Linked DNA regions of Homo sapiens. The protein of the gene in region 1 purifies or fractionates together with the protein of each later gene. This does not show direct contact. Each region holds a gene or a part of one and is shown in the gene's direction. Other genes may lie near its edges.

Region 1 (2,498 bases):
CAGGAAGTTTAAAAATTCTTTAAACAGGTATTTTGATATTGGAGAATAACATGCATATAATTCTGTAGGAATGCACATGTAATCCAAGTGAGTGGAGAGTGTTTTTAATGTTTTTGAATGAAGGAAATGAGGTTTTGTTTCACCTGTTTTGCAGCAGTAAGAGAAACTAGTGCTGCAAGAATGTATTTTTTAATGAAGTTCCTTATTTTGTCTTGCATGTTTTAGTTTTGCTTATTTTTAAATTTGGAGGTCCTCCATAATGTCAGATAATATTGACCTGCCATACGTTAGCACTCTTAGTTCCGCTACTGTCTTTAACAGGAGCAAAGAGCTGTGATAAACCATGCTTTTTTGAGCTTGTCTGACTCCTAATTAATAACATGTTTTTGGCAAGACAACAGATTGAGGTTAGAGGATCAGTAGGACATTTTTATTCCATCTGTCCTATGGGGAAATTTACAAATCCCGTGCTCTAAAATGTTCTCAAACATTTATATAGATTTCCCTTTCATCTTACTAAATTTTGCATTGTTCTTTTCAAGTATGTTTCGTATTTACTGTCTTTTTTTCTGCCATTTCCCAAATAATAACTCCAGATTTCATAATTCCAGTTTTTACATTCCGTTATCTTTCTGGTACAACCATTCCCATTCAGCCTTAAATCTGAGTCCTTTTTAGCAGCAACTTTTTTCCTGGGATCCTCCTTCGTGGTCTTCTAAGTCAGTGTTAGTTTTGAAATTTTTGGCCCTGCATAAGTTCTGCATAGCATCTAATGTCAAAATAGAACCAACTGGTAATCACAGTATTATTTAGTGTGGTTTCCATGACAACAAAAATACATACGAAGAAAACTTCTCAGGTTACTATGCTGAAATTCCAAAATGTCTGAGTTTTGAATAGTGATCACTTTGTTCTGGTATTGACGCAATTATATTAGGAAAAAAGTTGGTTGACTGTTTTTGTTTAATTGACTTCTAAAATGTTCAAATTGTCTAGTTCTAAAAGTTTACTAAATGCCTAGTGCAGTTAAACATACTCTTGTTTAAGTGTGTGTTGCTAAATTTTTTACTGTCATTACTAAATAATCTGTGTGGCAAAATGTGTGTCAGCACTTTTCCCTCCTTTTTTATCTCCTATTTTCAGGAGTCAAATGTAGCCATAAACTGTATCCTTGTCTGACACTTTAGCTAAAAATTTCCAGTTAGGGGAGTTTATTGCCAAATTAAATTTGGCTGTTCCCCCCAACCCATATAGATATTAAGGAAGGTGTACTTAAAAAATGTTTGGACTGCTTTTAAAACCTGAGCAATGTCATTAATCCATATGTGGACTAGTGATGAATAGATATTTTCATAAGAGTTTAAATGCTGATATTTGGTGGAAGTAGAGAGTAACTCATATTCTATCAATTCAAGTATTCTTACTATGGTTGCTTTCCCTATTTGTTCAATAGACTGATAATACTGGAATTTATAGAGTTTGAGCCATTACAACTTTTGTGAGGATGTGTTTCAAACATTTCTGGACAAATCTTATTTTGTATTTCTGGAAGAATGTAGTAATCTTCTAGACCGCTTAAAACCAATGCTCCCAAGCTGAATATTCTTGAGAAATTTGTTTTTATTATGCCATTTGACATTTCAAATCAGTGCTCATATACAGTAAACTTGTGATAGAAATTGTATTTTATTGCTTTTTGGATTATAATTCATATAAATATAATTACTTGAATATTGTTTGAGATCATTAACATGCCAGGGCAGTTCCCACTGATTTAGATGGTCCAAGATAATCTCATTCAGGAGGCTTGAAACATTAATGGTTTAGTCTTGTGAATTTTAACAGTTCTCTGTCATCGTTTAACAAAACCAACAACTGACACAACTCCTTAAGCTGTGGTTTCAGTCTCTGCTAGTTCATATTGCATGTTTATTTTGGACAGTCTTTTGTTAAGCATGGTGCTTGTACTGGTTTAAATAAAATGTTAACATTAAAAGACTTCCAGCTTTTCTTTTTTTACTCACCTCTTTCCCCCTTTGGAGTTACTGGTATGTACCTGGCTAGATTTGTGTGAGCCATAAACTTTATCTGGACAAACTGAGAGGCAAAATAAACAAGTCATTTGGCAGCTTGGTGGAAGGAGAAGATAATCAAGTTATAAAAATTTCTAAAACTTGGTCTGATGCTAAAATGTAGAAAATGTCAGTAAACAGTAGTAGGGACAGACAGAGCTATTTCAAACAATGAACGCTTGCTTTCAAAGGGAGAATTCGAAGTTAGGAGAGCTGTATACTTCGTAAGAAATCAAATTGAAGGTTTTTTTAATTGAATATAGCTTATCACTATGTATTAAACACCCATTGACAACCCGTCCTACCTTTATTACCAACTGTACTATATGGTATATGTTCAATAGGTATCTACTGAATGAATACAAATCACTAATAACATAGTTTTTAGAGTTTGCCATGTACTTGTGATTGTGTATGTTGTAATAG
Region 2 (3,500 bases), on another chromosome or scaffold:
TTTCAGTGCCTGGTCATCAAAACCTTCTTTTGATGGGAGCTCTCTGGGAAAGAGGTCTGGGCTTGGAAGTCAAACATCCAAGTTCAGATTAGAGTTATGATTATCTGTGAAACCTTGGACAAGCCCCATAACTTCTCTGAGATCTATTACATTTTTTTTTTGTAAAATGGAGTTAATAATTGTCAAAAGTCCAAGCCCCAGGACTCCAGTATACTTGATGAGATTGCTGAGAGTATTAAATAAATAACAGATCTGGACAGAGCTTTGCAAAGTGTAAAGGGCTGACAAGAGTTCATAGTTCTGCTCCTCATTCAATCCTCCTAATAACCCTAGAGGCAGCTACTACTATCCCTGTAGATATTGTGTAGATAGAGACATGCAACCCCTTAGCTTGTAAATTGAGAAATGGCTGTTCTATGGCAGGCAGTGTGAGCCCAGGACCTGTGCTCTTAATCCCACAGCATACCACTTAGTGTAGTTTACATAGTTTCTCATGCAGAACTTTATTCCTTTAGATTTCCTAATCAAGGTAAACTCTTGCCTGAAATATCTTATAAATGAGTGAAATCCAATAACTCATTGGACCAATAACTCAGTGGACCAGAAACATGTAATGCATTCATTTCATGTAGAATTATCCCCAGGAGCATGGATATTTGACAACTTCTGCCATTTGTTTCATCACATACTTGAAAACAAGCAAGGCTTCCTTAAAGAGCCTTGCTTCCACCAGTATTTATATGTGTTTCCCTTCTAGCAATGGGGACAAGTAGGCCCAAAGTGTGCCAGGTGTGCTGACTAGGGACAGGAGGAAGCCCTTTTGAGTTGTAAAATGTGTCACGGTACATCCACAGGGTGAATAATGAAGACATTGCCTGAATTTCCTAATTCTTTTCTCCTTGTAGCCAAATTTTATTCCAATTCTTACCTGGGAAGCAATCAAGTTAGGTTCTGTTTGGTAGTTGTTAACAGAAAGTTTAGCAAAGGGATAAACTTTAGGCTTTATAGCCTAAACTTTGGCAGATTGTCTTGTATAATGTATATTCTATAGACTTTTTGTTCTTTTACAATATATGTTCTTTTTCCATACAGACGTCCTCTCCTGTCACAGGTGGGAAAGAAACGGTAACTATATCACTTAAATTTATAAAATGGGGATAATAATAATGCTCCATCCATCTTGAGCATTTGTTTTGAGCTTTAAAGTTTGATAGGTGAACTGTCACTAAGCACAGAATCTGGCTCAAGAATTATTCTTGACCAGCTCCGCTCAAAAGTGAGGGAGAACATGCAAAATCACAGATGGATTTCACAAAGGGTTGAGCAAAAGAAGCCAGACACAAAGAGTGCATATCTTATATTTGCATCTATATTATGCTGAAAAACAGACAAAACTACTCTATGGCAATAGATTTCAGAATAGTGGTCACGCACAAGGAGGCTGGAAGAGATTTGAGGGGGATCCTGAGATACTGCTAATGTTCTGTTTCTTGATCTGGGTGTTGGTCTTATGGGTGTATTCCTCATGTGAAAAGTCATCCACTTATATATTTGTGATTCATATACTTTATTATTCTTCAATAAAATCAATTTCCCCCTAAAGTGAAGTGAAGGTGAATCCATTATTAAATAACAGTTGCACTTTTATAGGGTTTCTGCAGATTATCTTCAATATTTCCAGATAGTCTGCAAATCTGAAAACTTATGTAACTAAAAGCATGACTATTTCCACTCCGATCAAAGCAAAATGGGAATTTGAAAATTAATAGGTTAATGCATTTATTGCAAATAAATTTTTTTTGAAAGGCTAAATGTCACTTTTTTATTTATTTATTTTTATTATACTTTAAGTTCTAGGGTACATGTGCACAACGTGCAGGTTTGTTACATATGTATACATGTGCCACGTTGGTGTGCTGCACCCATTAACTCGTCATTTACATTAAGTGCAAATAAATTTTTTTAATTCATATTAAAATAGTGTGGTATGGCTGGGCATGGTGGCTCAAACCTGTAATCCCAGCACTTTGGGAGGCCAAGGCAGGCAGATCATGAGGTCAGGAGTTAGAGACCAGCCTGGCCAACATAGTGAAACCCCATCTCTACTAAAAATACAAAAATTAGCTGGGTGTGGTGGCATGCACCTGTAGTCCCAGCTACTCAGGAGGCTGAGGCAGAAGAATCGTTTGAATCCAGGAGGCGGAGGTTGCAGTGAGCCAAGACTGTGCCATTGCACTCCAGCCTGGGCAACAGAGCAAGACTCCATCTCAAACAAAAAAAAAAGTGTGGTGTATAATAAAAGCTTTTATTTTTAGCCAAACAGGTGAAAATGACATCTAATTGTTGCTCTGAATTGTATCTCAGCTTTTCCTACATTGAAGAGACATTTGTATTTCTGTTCTAAAGAATACCTGTTCATATCCTTTGCCCATTTTTCTACTTGATCATTACTCTTTCCAACAGATTTAAACTGTGTAAATTAAGTCCTATGAAAGTAAGTCATTTGTCATGTGTGTTACAAACATTTTTGCACAGTATTTCATTACCCTTTTGATTTTGTATATGACGTTTATGATCCATGCAGATTTTTTGTTTTATTTTTATTCTATTGAATTTTTCCTTTATTATTGAAGACTCTGGGCTTCCTCTGACCCTGTGTTTTTCATTCTGTGCCAGGACTGTGGGCCCTCTCTTGGATTAGCGGCGGGCATACCATTGCTGGTGGCCACAGCCCTGCTGGTGGCTTTACTATTTACTTTGATTCACCGAAGAAGAAGCAGCATTGAGGCCATGGAGGTGATTACTAGCTTCTTTGGGTCCAGATGTATAGGCAGCCACCAGTATTTCAGTGAACTGGCTTTTGGACTAAGGGTGTCAGAATTCAGGGCCCATGTCTATTTCCTGAGGACAAGATGCTGGAAGTTTCTGGGCCATAATTTCCACTGCAGACATGACATTAGGCACCAGACAGAGCTGATTTGTCATAAAACCTTCAGGTCAGTTGAGGAATTCCTGACAAAGATGGTATTTGGGGTAACAAAAAGTAGCAGTGGAGAAGGATGTCTGTTGCCATGGCAAACACATGTCTGTACAGTGGGTGTGCTTTCTAAAGTTGAGAAACAAAAGCGCACAAGCTTCACAAAGAAAGGATGGAGATAACGTTAAGAAAGATAGGAGATGAAGAGGGGCTGAGGTGTCCATGATAGACACCATGATAGAATCACAAGGGAATCTATATCCTCCCCATCCAATCCACCCCTCCAATGCCAGACTGTTCTGGGGACTATGCTTAGAAATCAAAAGCCACCTAGACTCATATCCAACAAGGTTCCATGGTTGTGACACAACTGTGTCATGTGGACTCTGGGTTCTAATTCTATTCTCTATTTATTGACATTCAAGGTTGTTATCATATGGGTAAACATTAATTAAGAGATTGAAAATTGAGGTTCTAAACCTGACTCTGCCACTTTATGATTTATATGATCCTGGACAAGTGA
Region 3 (3,500 bases), on another chromosome or scaffold:
AGAGAGGCCTTTTCTAATATCCAGCCCCCAAACCCCTGCACCCGCCCCAGATCATTCGCAAAATGTCACCTGTTTCTTATCTTCCAGGCACTTGTGATCTGAAATGTTCTGATTTGTGTCTTGTTTTTCTTTTCTTTGCTCCTTTCACTGCCATTCATCTTCCATGAGCAGAACCCTTCACTGTTGTGTTCTCGACTCCTAAGGCTTAGAACTGTGCCTGGCATAAGGTCTGCCCCTAGTGGGGTTTTCTGTTTTTCTCCCCTGGCTGTGGGTCTTTCCTCCTCCTCCTCTTCTCTTTCTTCTACTTATTTCCTTGTTTCTTCTCTTTTCTTTTTCTTCTGTCTTTATTTCCCCTTTTCTAGGTTGTTGGCTGTAATATGGCACTAAGGTTTTTGCAATATTTGTTTCATTTCTTGAGTATGTTTTTATGTTCCTTACTTAAAACAAAATGGCTGAGTCAAGTGTTTTAAACGTTTTCTAAGAAATGAATCAGATCGGCCGGGTGTGGTGGCTCACACCTGTAATGCTAGCACTTTGTGAGGCCGAGGCGGGTAGACCACTTGAGGTCAGGAGTTCAAGACCAGCCTGGCCAACATGGTGAAACCCCATCTTTATTTAAAATACAGCCAGGCGTGGTGGTTCACACCTGTAATCCCAGCACTTTGGGAGGCCAAGGCAGGTGGATCGCCTGAGGTCAGGAGGTCGAGGCCAGCCTGGCCAAGATGGTGAAACCCTGTCTCTACTAAAAATACAAAAATTAGCTGGGCGTGGTGGCGGGTGCCTGTAATTCCAGCTACTCGGGAGGCTGAGGCAGGAGAATCACTCGAACCCAGGAGGCGGAGGTTGCAGTGAGCCGAGATCGCACCATTGCGCTCCAGCCTGGGTGACAGAGCAAGACTCTGTCTCAAAAAAAAAAAGAAAAAAGAAAAGAAACAAAACAAAAACAAAATTAGCCAGGCATGGTGGTGCATGCCTATAATCCCAGCTACTTGGGAGGCTGAGGCAGGAGAATTGCCTGAACCTGGGAGGCAGAGGTTACAGTGAGCAGAGATCATGCCATTGCACTCCAGCCTGGGCAACAAGAGCGAGACTCCGTCTCAAAAGAAAGAAATGAATCAGATGGTTAGATGAGGCCCAGATGCAGGGGTGAAAAGAGTGTGTCTGGTTTGGCTTGGGCTCTGTGCTGGGCAGCTGTCTTTTTAGTCTCCACTGTACCTTGGTTTCCTTCATTTTACAAATGAAGGGCTGGCCAACCTCTGAAGCCTCTTTGCATTCAGGGATATAAGTTGTCGTCAGTTGATTTAAATATATATATAATATTATATAATATTATAATATTATATATAATATATATTATAATATATAATATAATATATAATATTATATAATATATATAATATTATATATTATATTATATATAATATATATTTTATATATAATATAATATATAATATATATAATATATTATATATATTTATATTATATTATATATAATATTTTATATTTTATATATAATATATTATATATAATATATATATATTTTTTAAAGATGGAGTCTTGCTGTGTCACCCAGACTGGTACAGTGGTGCCATCTCAGCTCACTGCAACCTCCACCTCCCAGGCTCAAGTGATTCTCATGCCTCACCCTCCCAAGTAGCTGGGATTACAGGCATGTGCCACCATGCCTGGCTAAGTTTTATATTTTCTGTAGAGACAGGGTTTCACCATGTTGCCCAGGTGGGTTTCAAACTCTTGAGCTCACACAAATGTGCCTTGGCCTCCCAAAGTGCTGGGTTTACAGGTGTGAGCCACCGTGCCCAACCTGAAGTATTATACTTTTTTTTTTTCCTGGGACAGAGTCTTGATGTCACCCAGGCTGAGGGCAGTGGCGCAATCTCAGCTCACTGCAACCTCTGTCTTCTAGGTTCAAGCGATTCTCGTGCCTCAGCCTCCTGAGTAGCTAGAATTACAGGCGTGTGCCACCATGCCCGGCTAATTTTTATATTTTTAGTAAGAGGCGGGGTTTCACCATGTTGGCCAGGCTGGTCTCGAACTCCTGATGTAAGGTGCTCCTCCCACTTCAGCCTCCCAAAGTGCTGGGATTACAGGCATGAGCCACCGCGCCCAACCTGATACTTTTATTTTTTTTGAGACGGAGTCTTGCCCTGTCGCCCAGGCTGGAGTACAGTGGCACGATCTCGGCTCGCTGCAAGCTCTGCCTCCTGGGTTCATGCCATTCTCCTGCCTCAGCCTCCCAAGTAGCTGGGACTACAGATGCCCGCCACCACGCCCGGCTAATTTTTTTTTTTTTGTATTTTTAGTAGAGACGGGGTTTCACCGTGTTAGCCAGGGTGGGCCAACCTGATACTTTTAAAAGTTATAGTGCATATTATGCTGGGTACGGCAGCTCACACCTGTAGTCTTAACTACTCAGGAGGCTGAGGTGGGAGGATCATTTGCGACCAGCCTAGGCAACATAGGGAGACCCTGTCTCTACAACAATAAAGTCACAGTTAGGATATCAGGCTGAGCTGGGGGTTCCATTTGGGGTTGGATTTGCTCCCTTCTCTAGAGCCAGGAAATGTTGGGCTTGGCCAGGCATCAGGAGGTAGATGGTGCTAGCCTTTCTGTGGGGCCACTGTGGGGTTGGGAAGGGCCCTCACTCATTCTGAGGAGCCTCAGTGCTGAGGCTGCGCTAACCTGGGCTCTAACTTCCCTCCCTAGATGCTGAAGTTCCGAACAGTCCATGGGGGCCTGAGGCTCCTGGGAATCCGCCGAACCTCCACCGCCCCCGCTGCCTCCCCAAATGTCCGGCGCCTGGAGTATAAGCCCATCAAGAAAGTCATGGTGGCCAACAGAGGTGAGCACCAGTGGGGCCGGTGAGAGGAGCCTCATGGCCGCCCCAGCCTTGGCATTCTTCTCCCACTCACTGCCCCAGGCCCTGGCTTCCCACTCCCCTTTCTGCTTCTCCTAGGACCTAGGAATCTAACTTCTTGTTTCTTTGCCCTCTAGGTGAGATTGCCATCCGTGTGTTCCGGGCCTGCACGGAGCTGGGCATCCGCACCGTAGCCATCTACTCTGAGCAGGACACGGGCCAGATGCACCGGCAGAAAGCAGATGAAGCCTATCTCATCGGCCGCGGCCTGGCCCCCGTGCAGGCCTACCTGCACATCCCAGACATCATCAAGGTGGCCAAGGTGAGCCCAGTGGCCTGGCTGGGCCTGGACAGCAGGGACCAGGGAGTCTTAGTTGCCGCGGGGGTCTCTTGAGGCTGGCGTGCTCAGCGCCTCTGTGCGTGGGTGGGTAAACGGATGCAGCTCAGCAGGTTAGGCAGGGGAAGAGGCTGGCCGAGGCCTTGGAAGGGACTGCAAGGTACCGTCCTCTCCCTGACCCCCACCTGCAGGAGAACAACGTAGATGCAGTGCACCCTGGCTACGGGTTCCTCTCTGAGCGAGCGGACTTCGCCCAGGCCTGCCAGGATGCAGGGGTCCGGTTTATTG
Region 4 (2,865 bases), on another chromosome or scaffold:
AAATCTAGTATACAGTTTAATGTCCTAATGTAAGACATTAAACTGGAAATCTCTCATTTTTTTTTCTTTCTTTTTGAGATGGAGTCTTGTTCTGTCACCCAGGCTGCAGTGCAGCGGTGCAATATTGGCTCACTGCAACCTCCGCCTCCCGGGTTGGAGCGATTCTCCTGCCTCAGTCTCCCAAGTAGTTGGGATTACAGGAGCACACTACAACACCCGGCTATGTTTTGTATTTTTAGTACAGACGGGGTTTCACCATGTTGGCCAAGCTGGTCTTGAACTCCTGGCCTCATGTGATCTGCCCACCTTGGCCTCCCAAAGTGGTGGGATTACAGGCGTGAGCCACCATGCCAGCCTTGGAGATCTCTCTCTTTTTTTTTTTTTTTTTTTTTGAGACAGAGTTTCGCTCTTGTTGCCCAGGCTGGAGTGCAATGGCAGAATCTCGGCTCACCACAACCTCCGCCTCTGGGGTTCAAGCGATTCTCCTGCCTCAGCCTCCCAAGTAGCTGGGATTACAGACATGTGCCACCACGCCCAGCTAATTTTGTGTTTTTAGTAGAGATGGGGTTTCTCCACGTTGGACATGCTGGTCTCGAACTCCCAACCTCAGGTGATCCACCCGCCTCAGCCTCCCCAAGTGCCAGGATTACAGGCGTGAGCCACTGCGCCCAGCCAGAGATCTCTTTAAAACCTAAAAGTCATCCGCAGAAGAACGGCACATTCTCAGTGAACTGGAATTTTTACTTCTAGATGTCCATTTATTCATTGAGGAAAAATGGAGTGCTGTTTTGGAAACAGGCCCTATTGGACACCAGCCCAGGTTTAACTATATAGATATATATTTATAGCTGACACTAATTAATTTAATAAACATTTAGTACATATCTCCTGGGTGCCATGCATGATGCTGAGCACTGAGAATATCCAATCTGAATGAGCCTGTCTGGTAGAAGAGAGAGGTGGATACGGGGGCTGGGTAGGGGATTCGGCAGAGCTCAGAAGAGAAGCCAGTGCCTCTGTTTTCACACAGAGGAATCTAGGGGGATGCGTGGACTGCAGGGAACAGGTTGCACCTGAGCGGCATCCTGAGTTGCGATGGGTTTTGGAGGGAGGGACTGTGAGTTGAGAAGACACAGGCGAGCATCCTCGGCTGCAAGTGCAGCACACCCAGGGCAGCCCTGGGCTTCAGAGAGCGCACACTGCCTCTGAGGCGCTGCCCGTGCTGTGGTCCTCCGGAAGCACAGATGGAGCTAGAAAAAAGAGCTCTAGGTAGCCAGGCGCAGTGGCTCATGCCTGTCTTCCCAGCACTTTGGGAGGCCGAGGTGGGAGAATCGCTTGAGGCCAGGAGTTTTGAGACCAGTTTGGGCAACATAGCGTGACCCCATCTCTATAAAAAAGCCAGGTGCAGCCAGGCGCACTGACCCACTCCTGTAATCCCAGCACTTTGGGAAGCTGAGGCTCGTTTCTCCTCACTGCTTTCCTGTCTTGAGCACAGGAGTTCGAGACCAGCCTGGGCAACACAGTGAGATCCTGTCTCTATTTAAAAATATACATATATATATTTTTAAAAACCAGGTGCAGTGACGCATGCCTTTAGTTGCAGCTACTTGAGAAGCTGAGGCAGGAGGATCACTTGAGCCCAGGAGTTGGAGGCTGCAGTGAGCTGTGGTCACACCACTGCACTCCAGCCTGGGGCAACAGAGCAAGACCCTATCTTTAAAAAAAAAAAAAAAGAGGAGTGAGGAGTGTGCCCAGAGCCTGTGTGTGTGGCAGTGGGGAAAAGGCACACCTGGCCTGGAGGAGCCAGCAGGGGGAGCCCCGGCCTGGAGTGTCTCTGCGGGGTGAGTCCTGGGAGATCCTGTTTCAGGTGGGGCAGGGCCAGGTTCAGGGTGGGGACAGGCAGAACCTTCCCTGAGGAAGAGGGAGTGGTGTCATACCTACCTCGGGGTAGACACTCCTCAGTGACATCAGTGCTCTTCCCACCTTTTCCAAGACCCTCGAGTCTTCCATCCAGGGCCTCCGGATAATGTGAAGCTGAGTGAGCCTCCGCCATCCAGCATGACAAACTGTGGCCGACCGCAGCTGTGCCGTGGCACGATGGCGAGGAAGCCAGCCCCAAGGAAACACTGAAAACACATATCACGCCAATGCCGTGTGGTTTTGTTTGAATATAAAATTGGTGAAAGTGTTGGTTTTTTTAAGGCAGTAATTTTTTTGTTTGTTTTTTTGCGATTTCATTCCATTCTTGACCAAAGCTTCTCTTTAAGTAGTTTATTATGGAAAATTGTCACACTAACTTAAAAGACAGGGTGAGGGAGATATGTAAATTGTCCACTAGAAAATTAAATAAAAGAACTGAATGTGGTTTTGGTTTTGTTTCCTTGTAGTATTTCAATTTTTAGTAGAAAAATATGAGCGAATTCTTCATTCGATTCAGTTTTTTTTAGGCAAAATCTTAGATCCTTGGTTTCTTAAATTGTACCATTCTATACAACCTTGAACCAAAAAGCACCATTTAGTGAGGGGTGAGAGAGAACCGTTTCTGAACATTGCAATACTTCTGCAAAGTAGGTTGTGTCGGTCTGTTTTGTGTTGCAATAAAGGAATACCTGAGGCTGGGTAATTTGTTTAAGAAAAAAGATTTATTTGGCACACGGTTCTGCCGGTTGGACAAGAAGCATGGTGCCTGCGTCTGCTTTTGGGGAAGCCTCAGGAAGGTTTTACTCATGGCAGAAGGCGAAGGGGAAGCAGGCGTGTCCCATGGCGGGAGAGGATGCAAGAGAGAGTGGGGAGGACCAGGCTCCTTGAAACAACCAGGTCATAGAGTGAGAACACACTCATTCCTGCCAGGGGGCACCAAGCCAT
Region 5 (3,500 bases), on another chromosome or scaffold:
ACCTCTGAAGTTAGCCCTGTTCGATCTCTGCTCCTTGTCAGACTACATTAAAGAATCTAGATGTCTTCTACACATTGTCCTTCTCTTCCTCACAGTGTCTGCCTTGATGACCAAATCAAAAATTGTTTTATTGCATTACTGCCTGAGTGTGTGATATTTTAGCAGAATCTGAGCCATGAGCTTCTTAAGTAAAGCCTTCTACTCACTGGTCACAGTCTAGCTTCTCTATGGCTTAAGAGTAAACCTGTTTGATAAAGCTATAAATGGCATTTATTCCTTCCTTCTTGCTGCTTAGAATCTCACTGAGTTTTTCTTCTACTCCAACTGAAGAAGGTGCCACATCTCACCTGTTGGTGGTTCTCACCTGGCTTTATATTAGCATCACTAAGGGGCTTTTACAAAACACTTGCTGAGACCCCATCTCCAGATTCTGATTTAACTGGTTCAGGGTGAGGTGTTACTATTATAAAAAACAAGCAAACAGAAATCCCTCCAGGGTATTGTAATGTGCAACCAGAGTTGAAAGCCCTTCCTGATGGAGTAAAGCTGCCATTCCGTTGTTTTACTGAACTTCTATTCTGGATCTCTGAAATCCACCAGCACGATTGAGGCTTTATTAGTGTGTCTGTCCCACAGCCCTGGTGAGGAGTAAGACAGAAGCTTGGTGAACCTTACGTGATATGAGATATGACCTGCTCCTGACAAAGGCCTGTACACCAATGCCGTGTTCACTCTGAGAGTCATTGTTTAATCAAGTGACAGAGGTTGAGTATCTGTTAATGTGGCACAGATACTGTGCTAGACGCCATGAGAACAATTTGACAAGGGCTTCATCCTTATGGAGGTTAGAGTTGATGACTCTGTTTTGGTTCTAGAAATGAATTCCTGTCCTGTGAGGATGCACCTGCTTGTCCCACAAGCAGGGCTGTCTTTGGTATACAGCTGGGCCCTACACCCTACTCTCCTGTGGGTAACATACTGTTCACTTCAACCTGCCCTGCTTGGCCAGATAATATTCATGGCTCAGATGAGGAATGACCAGGACCTTGACTTCTTCATCTACCAACCAGACTAGGTTACTCAGTAATACTAGTAGCATTGGTCGCCCCTGTGCCTTCTCTCTTAGTGAGCTTAGATGAGCCATGAACCTAGAGCCTAGAACTCTATTGGGCTGTCTGGTGAAGGGTAGACTTTAAAAGTTCAAGCCTAAAGGCAGCTGCAAATGGGCTGTTTCTGACCAGTTTTTTCTGACATACATCTCAGTCTCAACCTTAACCTTTTCACTCTAACTGAAGGCAGAGGAAGTAAGCATTGAGAAAATTCCATTAAGGAAGACGAAAGCTCGCCACCTTCCCTAAAGCCTGGGTGCAGTGAGGCCACAGAGACCACTTCCTGTCTCCCTTTCCCTGGGCCATTTTGTCTGCTAAGTCCTGGAGGCACTTCCCTCCCAAGTAGAGGTGAAGTCTCACCCCACCAGCTGCAGAGAGCGATTAAAGAGACCAAAGAAAACAGTTGAAAAAGAATACCAAAGTAGTAAGTGATCAAAAGGCTAGATCTAAGAGAGAGTTCTTTTCATAATTCCCCTACTCCTCATTTCTGTTGTCTAGGGCCTCACTAGATGCACTTGACCTATGTCCGTGTCCCTACCCCCTCATCTCCACAGAAGTCTGCAATATAGATTGCAGTAGGGTTGGCCATTTTTCAAGAACATTTTTCGCGTTCATTGAGAATTGACCTTCAGAATTGTGACTTATTTTTTCTTATCTCTGGAGTGATAGCAAGTAATCATTTTTTAAGAGTAGATTTGATTTTTCATACAACCAGAAATAATTCAGGATGTAATTTGGTGAATACCCTGTGTTGAGGTTGTAAATTTGATCTGAAGACAGTTTCCATGACAAAGTTCAGAAATACTTTGAGTAAAAGCAGCATTCATACATAATGTTGAGCACCTACTTTGACAGGCACTGCTCAGGGCACTGGGGATAAAGCAAGACTGGCATTCTATCTAGGGGAGAGGAGTTTACCAATTAACAAGTAATAAAACAACGAAAAATACTAAAGATGTTGCCAAAATAATACAATTTCTGGAAAGAAATACTCCGAAGAAGAATGGAGGAGGTGGGGAAGGGTGGAAGTGGCTGGTTTAGAGAGGGTGATTTAAGGTAGGCTCTGAAAAGGGGGCACTTGGGCAGAAGCCTTAGTTCTGTGAAGCACAAAGCCATGTCATGGTATGTTCTGGTAGTGGCAGCAATAAATGAAAGTTGCTGAGGGAGGAACAAGCTTGACGGGTTTCAAAAACACCAAAGGAGCAATGTAGGAGGTGCGGAGTAGAGGAGAGGGCAAATGGTAGGAGATGAGATTGGAGATGGAGGCTGAGATTCTGAGGCTTTTGGGAAGCAGCTGGGGGATGAGCCTTGCCGGAGTTAGTGTTTTGCCTTTTAGGGACATTATTTTGAAGGTAAAGACTAATTTGTATTTATGACTTAAGACACATGTTAGGCCAGTGTTAAAATGGGTGAAGGTGAGGAATAAATGCATATCCTTGAATATGCTTAGAATGTTTTTGCAAGAAGATCTGAGAAAGCAATGGCAGTGTTTCCTGGGTGATAGGTTGTGACACTGCTGTCAGGTCAAGAGAGGAAGGGGCACTTACATGTTAATCTCTTCTTTAGTAGTATTTGATTTTTTATCATATGCATGTATTTTTAGAAGCTTTTTCATAATATACCATATGTGTGTATATGTTTAAGGTTTGATTTTTTGCAGAAAGAGTATAGCTGCTGTGTTTGTGAAAACACAAAGAGATCTTTAAACCAGTCTCTCCTCTGAGATAATTTGATAAGTGATCGGAAGCTGCTTGGCATTTAGATTTCTGTGAAATCCAAGCATTGACACTTGAGTGTTTTCAGTGAGTGAAATGTGCTCTAATGTATAACACTTAATATTTTAATATTAATATTTTATTAAAATAAAATAACAGGTATTTAATATTAATATTTTAATAGATAATTTTTCTATTTCAAACTACATCTTTTGCTCTTTTCCCTAGGCAACAGAAACAGACACAAAAATCAGAGTGTGCACCCGGGCCTACCATCTGCTTGTGAAAAAACTGGGCTTTAATCCAAATGACATTATTTTTGACCCTAATATCCTAACCATTGGGACTGGAATGGAGGAACACAACTTGTATGCCATTAATTTTATCCATGCAACAAAAGTCATTAAAGTAAGTGTAGGCATGTTCTCTCCCAAGTCATGGCTCAAATTTGTCCCATGGGTCTAATGAATGGTTAGAACTAACTTATATATTTATTGGCTGATGAAATGTTAACATTCTTAGTTAGTAAATTGTTTTTCTGAAATGTAGGAGACCTTATTTTTTTTCTTTAGTAGAGTTTTAACTTGTGTAACAAACAGACTGGAGAACATAACAGAGCCTGATGAACTCGCTTGAACCCAGGAGGGTGGAGGTTGCATTGAGCTGGGATCACGCC
Region 6 (3,500 bases), on another chromosome or scaffold:
CAGTATTAGTCAGCTACCAGGTAACAGTAAGGATTCAACCCAGGCAGACAGGCTCTCAAACCAATGCCGTCTCCCTGACTTCCTTAGATGTATGTTTAGGTATGAATAAAGAAGAAATGTCTATATAAAAGGCGTGTTTGTACTTTATTTTTCAAAGAGATCATCTTCAGACACCAACGAAAGTGAAATAAAGTCAAATGAAGAGCCACTCCTAAGAAAGAGTTCTCGCCGGTTTGTCATCTTTCCAATCCAGTACCCTGATATTTGGAAAATGTATAAACAGGCACAGGCTTCCTTCTGGACAGCAGAAGAGGTACGTGGCATTGCCTCCAAGAGCATTCACATCCTATAGTGCAGTGTTCCTTCTTGTTTTACAGGATATTGAATAACTTTAACTTATACATTGAAGAAGATCAGTTGTAGAAGATAAGTGTTGGAATTACTGAGACTAAATATGATGTTCTCAATGTTTTAGTTTAGATTACTATCTATAAACAAGTTTTCTGCTGCAACAATGGCATCTAATTCTGCCAGATTTTTATTTCCAATATATTAGAACATTTTTTTTCTTTTTCTTTTTTTTTTTTTTTTTTGAGACAGAGTCTCACTCTGTCACCCAGGCTAGAGTGCAGTGGCGCGATCTCAGCTCACTGCAAACTCCACCTCCCGGGTTCAAGCGATTCTCCTGCCTCAGCTTCCTGAGTAGTTGGGATTACAGGCGCCAGCCACCACGCCCAGCTAATTTTTGTATTTTTAGTAGAGATGGGGTTTCACCACATTGGCCAGGCTGGTCTCAAACTCCTGACCTTGTGATCCACCTGCCTCAGCCTCCCAAAGTGCTGGGATTACAGGCATGAGCCACCACGCCCAGCCAACATTTTCTATTTTTAAACAGACTTTTAGTTTGATATGGCCAAGTAAGACTTGTCTGACTAGTCTTACAAGGTCAGCAGAATAAGTAAAATTGCAGCTGTAGTCAAAAAATGAGTGAAAGCTGTAGCAACTCTGCTTTCAATTGAGAGATTTATCTGATTGTACAAAATGAGCCGCTGCATGAAGAGTTTGATCCTCTAGGCTGTGGACTCACTCCCGAGTCAGCCAGGTGGAACTCACAGTGCTGCTCCCAGTTTGGCCCTGCCCTCAGCTACATCAAACGTGACAGAGTTGCCACTAATAGATCAGCTGTAGAAAGCTTTTTGTTAATTCCACCTGGGAGATCAGTTGAACACAGCAAACTAGAAAATATTTGCTGGTTGGTAAGGACAGTGGTCATGAAAATGATTGCCCTGTAGTCTAACTGAACAAATAGTTATTGTCTTGATCTTTAAATATAATGGGTGATACCTATACAGCACTCTTGTTCTGTATATGTTTGTATATGTATCTCTATAGATAGATGTATCTATTTGGATAGATAGATTTGAATCTATTTTTCAAGACATTAATTCTATAAATGTTAAACACATGCTGTTAAGAATGCAGGCTATGGGGTCAGACTGCCTAGGTACAAATCCTGTGCCACTACTTACTAGCTATGGAACTGGGAAAGTTACATAACCTCTCTGTGTATCCTCATCAGTAAATTAGGCTAATTGTACTTGGCTATTTGTGTTGTTATGAGGATTTATGAGATATTTAAAATGGTAGTTGACACTTAGTAGGCACTAAATAAATGTAAACTATTATTTTATGCACAGAAGGGGGAAAATTTAACCTAGAAATCAGAAGGCACCAGTGTTTGAAGCTTCTATTACACTAATTTTACCCACTTACCCATCTTTGTTATATTGTAGTGTTATATTGTCAACATCTTTGTTATATTATAGTTGACATATAGAGCAAAAAACCAAACCACACAAAAACAAACACCCAATATTTTCATACGTGGTCATAATGCTTGACACACCTGACTGTCCCTAACTGTCTGTGGTTTTTAGAAAGGTTTTTTGTTAGATACGGTTCAGAGAACGAGTGGAATACGCAGGTGGCTTTTTCGTTCATTATGTTAAAAAGGTACTTAGGATTCTTAGGATTCTTGAAATTCATTTGGAAATTAACTTGCATCTTTTAGCAAAGGTAATATGTGACCTGTAACAAAGCAACACTAATTTTTAAAAACTGAAATCTACAGGTTGGTACGTGTTCTGTAGCTAATTATAGGACGATTCAAATACATATTTTGAAGATAAATCAAACACATTTTTAGTTCCACATATTTTTCATTTACAAATTATGTAAGTTACCATTTAGTCAGCTTAAATGGTTGAGCTTAATTCTTAAATATGGCTGATCAACAGAAACCCTGATCAAAAGACAAAAGTCTGGGGTTTGGGACTTTTTTCTTTAAAGCCACTCAGGCAGTTATGATAATTGTCTAGTTTGGAATCAGTATTTAAATGATGAAATTGAGAATTTGCTCAAATAAGAAAAAGCTAGGCAGGAAGGGAATATTTCCAATGTAGTGTAAATAAAATTTAGAAGACCTTTGAAACTGAGTGTTCAAAGAAATAATTTTAATATTTAAGAGGAAGCATCTTACAATATTAACATTTAATATCAAATATATAATATATAAGAGGTCGAGCATGGTGGCTCACACCTGTAATCCAAGCACTTTGGGAGGCTAAAGTGGGCAGATCACTTGAGGTCAGGAGTTTGAGACCAACCTGGACAACATGGTAAAACCCTGTCTCTAGTAAAAATACAAAAATTAGCCAGGCGTGGCAGCAGGTGCCTGTAATCCCAGCTACTCAGGAGGTTGAGGCAGGAGAATCGCTTGAGCCCAGGTAGCAGAGGCTGCAGTGAGCCCAGATCATGCCACTGTATTCCAGCCTGGGCAACAGAGTGAGACTGTCTCCGAAAAAAAACCTGAGGGGTTATAATATATATGAATGAAGAAGATGTCCTTCAGTTAAACCTGAGTTGAGCTTTTAATAGAACAGAACTTGATTTTTAGGTTGCATATTTTAAAAGATGAAGACAAATATTTCCTCCACCCTGCTCCGTTGTATCCCCAGTGCTTAGCACGGTGTCAGGTGTGCAGTAAGTGCTCAGCAAACACTTAAAGAATAAATTAGTGGGAAAAAGGATTTGGAAAATAGCATGTGATTAAAAGATTGGGACATTAGTCCTTTTTGGAAAGGTCAAAGAGATTGAGGCTTGAGGCTTTGTGGGTTTTTTTTTTTTTGTTGTTGTTGTTGTTTTGTTTTTGAGACAGAGTTGCACTCTGTTGCCAGGCTGGAGTGCAATGGCACGATCTTGGCTCACTGCAACCTCCTCCTCCTGGGTTCAAGCGATTCTCCTGCCTCAGCCTCCCAAGTAGCTGGGACTACAGGCATGCGCCACCATGCCTAGCTAATTTTGTATTTTTAGTAGAGACAGGGTTTCACTATGTTGACCAGGTTGGTCTCAATCTCTTGACCTCATGATCCACTCACCTTGGCCTCCCAAAGTGCTGGGATTACAGGCGTGAGCTACCGTGCCCAGCCGAGGGTTTGTTA

The links.
Region 2: the proteins of GMFB (region 1) and OPALIN purify together in Homo sapiens (co-immunoprecipitation; one large-scale study listed by IntAct). This does not show direct contact.
Region 3: the proteins of GMFB (region 1) and PC purify together in Homo sapiens (co-immunoprecipitation; one large-scale study listed by IntAct). This does not show direct contact.
Region 4: the proteins of GMFB (region 1) and ARPC1A purify together in Homo sapiens (co-immunoprecipitation; one large-scale study listed by IntAct). This does not show direct contact.
Region 5: the proteins of GMFB (region 1) and MTR purify together in Homo sapiens (co-immunoprecipitation; one large-scale study listed by IntAct). This does not show direct contact.
Region 6: the proteins of GMFB (region 1) and RRM2B purify together in Homo sapiens (affinity purification with mass spectrometry; one large-scale study listed by BioGRID and IntAct). This does not show direct contact.

The regions. Positions count from the first base shown.
Region 1 is NC_000014.9:54,473,985-54,476,482, reverse strand, and holds the end of GMFB (glia maturation factor beta), read left to right. Parts: 3' UTR 1-1,998; downstream 1,999-2,498. UniProt on the Homo sapiens protein: This protein causes differentiation of brain cells, stimulation of neural regeneration, and inhibition of proliferation of tumor cells.
Region 2 is NC_000010.11:96,349,003-96,352,502, reverse strand, and holds part of OPALIN (opalin), read left to right. Parts: intron 1-1,092; coding exon 1,093-1,125; intron 1,126-2,676; coding exon 2,677-2,796; intron 2,797-3,500. UniProt on the Homo sapiens protein: Central nervous system-specific myelin protein that increase myelin genes expression during oligodendrocyte differentiation. Promotes oligodendrocyte terminal differentiation.
Region 3 is NC_000011.10:66,871,384-66,874,883, reverse strand, and holds part of PC (pyruvate carboxylase, mitochondrial precursor), read left to right. Parts: intron 1-2,724; coding exon 2,725-2,860; intron 2,861-3,012; coding exon 3,013-3,197; intron 3,198-3,403; coding exon 3,404-3,500. UniProt on the Homo sapiens protein: Pyruvate carboxylase catalyzes a 2-step reaction, involving the ATP-dependent carboxylation of the covalently attached biotin in the first step and the transfer of the carboxyl group to pyruvate in the second.
Region 4 is NC_000007.14:99,363,898-99,366,762, forward strand, and holds the end of ARPC1A (actin-related protein 2/3 complex subunit 1A), read left to right. Parts: intron 1-1,993; coding exon 1,994-2,032; 3' UTR 2,033-2,365; downstream 2,366-2,865. UniProt on the Homo sapiens protein: Probably functions as a component of the Arp2/3 complex which is involved in regulation of actin polymerization and together with an activating nucleation-promoting factor (NPF) mediates the formation of branched actin networks.
Region 5 is NC_000001.11:236,847,292-236,850,791, forward strand, and holds part of MTR (methionine synthase), read left to right. Parts: intron 1-3,052; coding exon 3,053-3,232; intron 3,233-3,500. UniProt on the Homo sapiens protein: Catalyzes the transfer of a methyl group from methylcob(III)alamin (MeCbl) to homocysteine, yielding enzyme-bound cob(I)alamin and methionine in the cytosol. MeCbl is an active form of cobalamin (vitamin B12) used as a cofactor for methionine biosynthesis.
Region 6 is NC_000008.11:102,228,962-102,232,461, reverse strand, and holds part of RRM2B (ribonucleoside-diphosphate reductase subunit M2 B), read left to right. Parts: intron 1-157; coding exon 158-313; intron 314-3,500.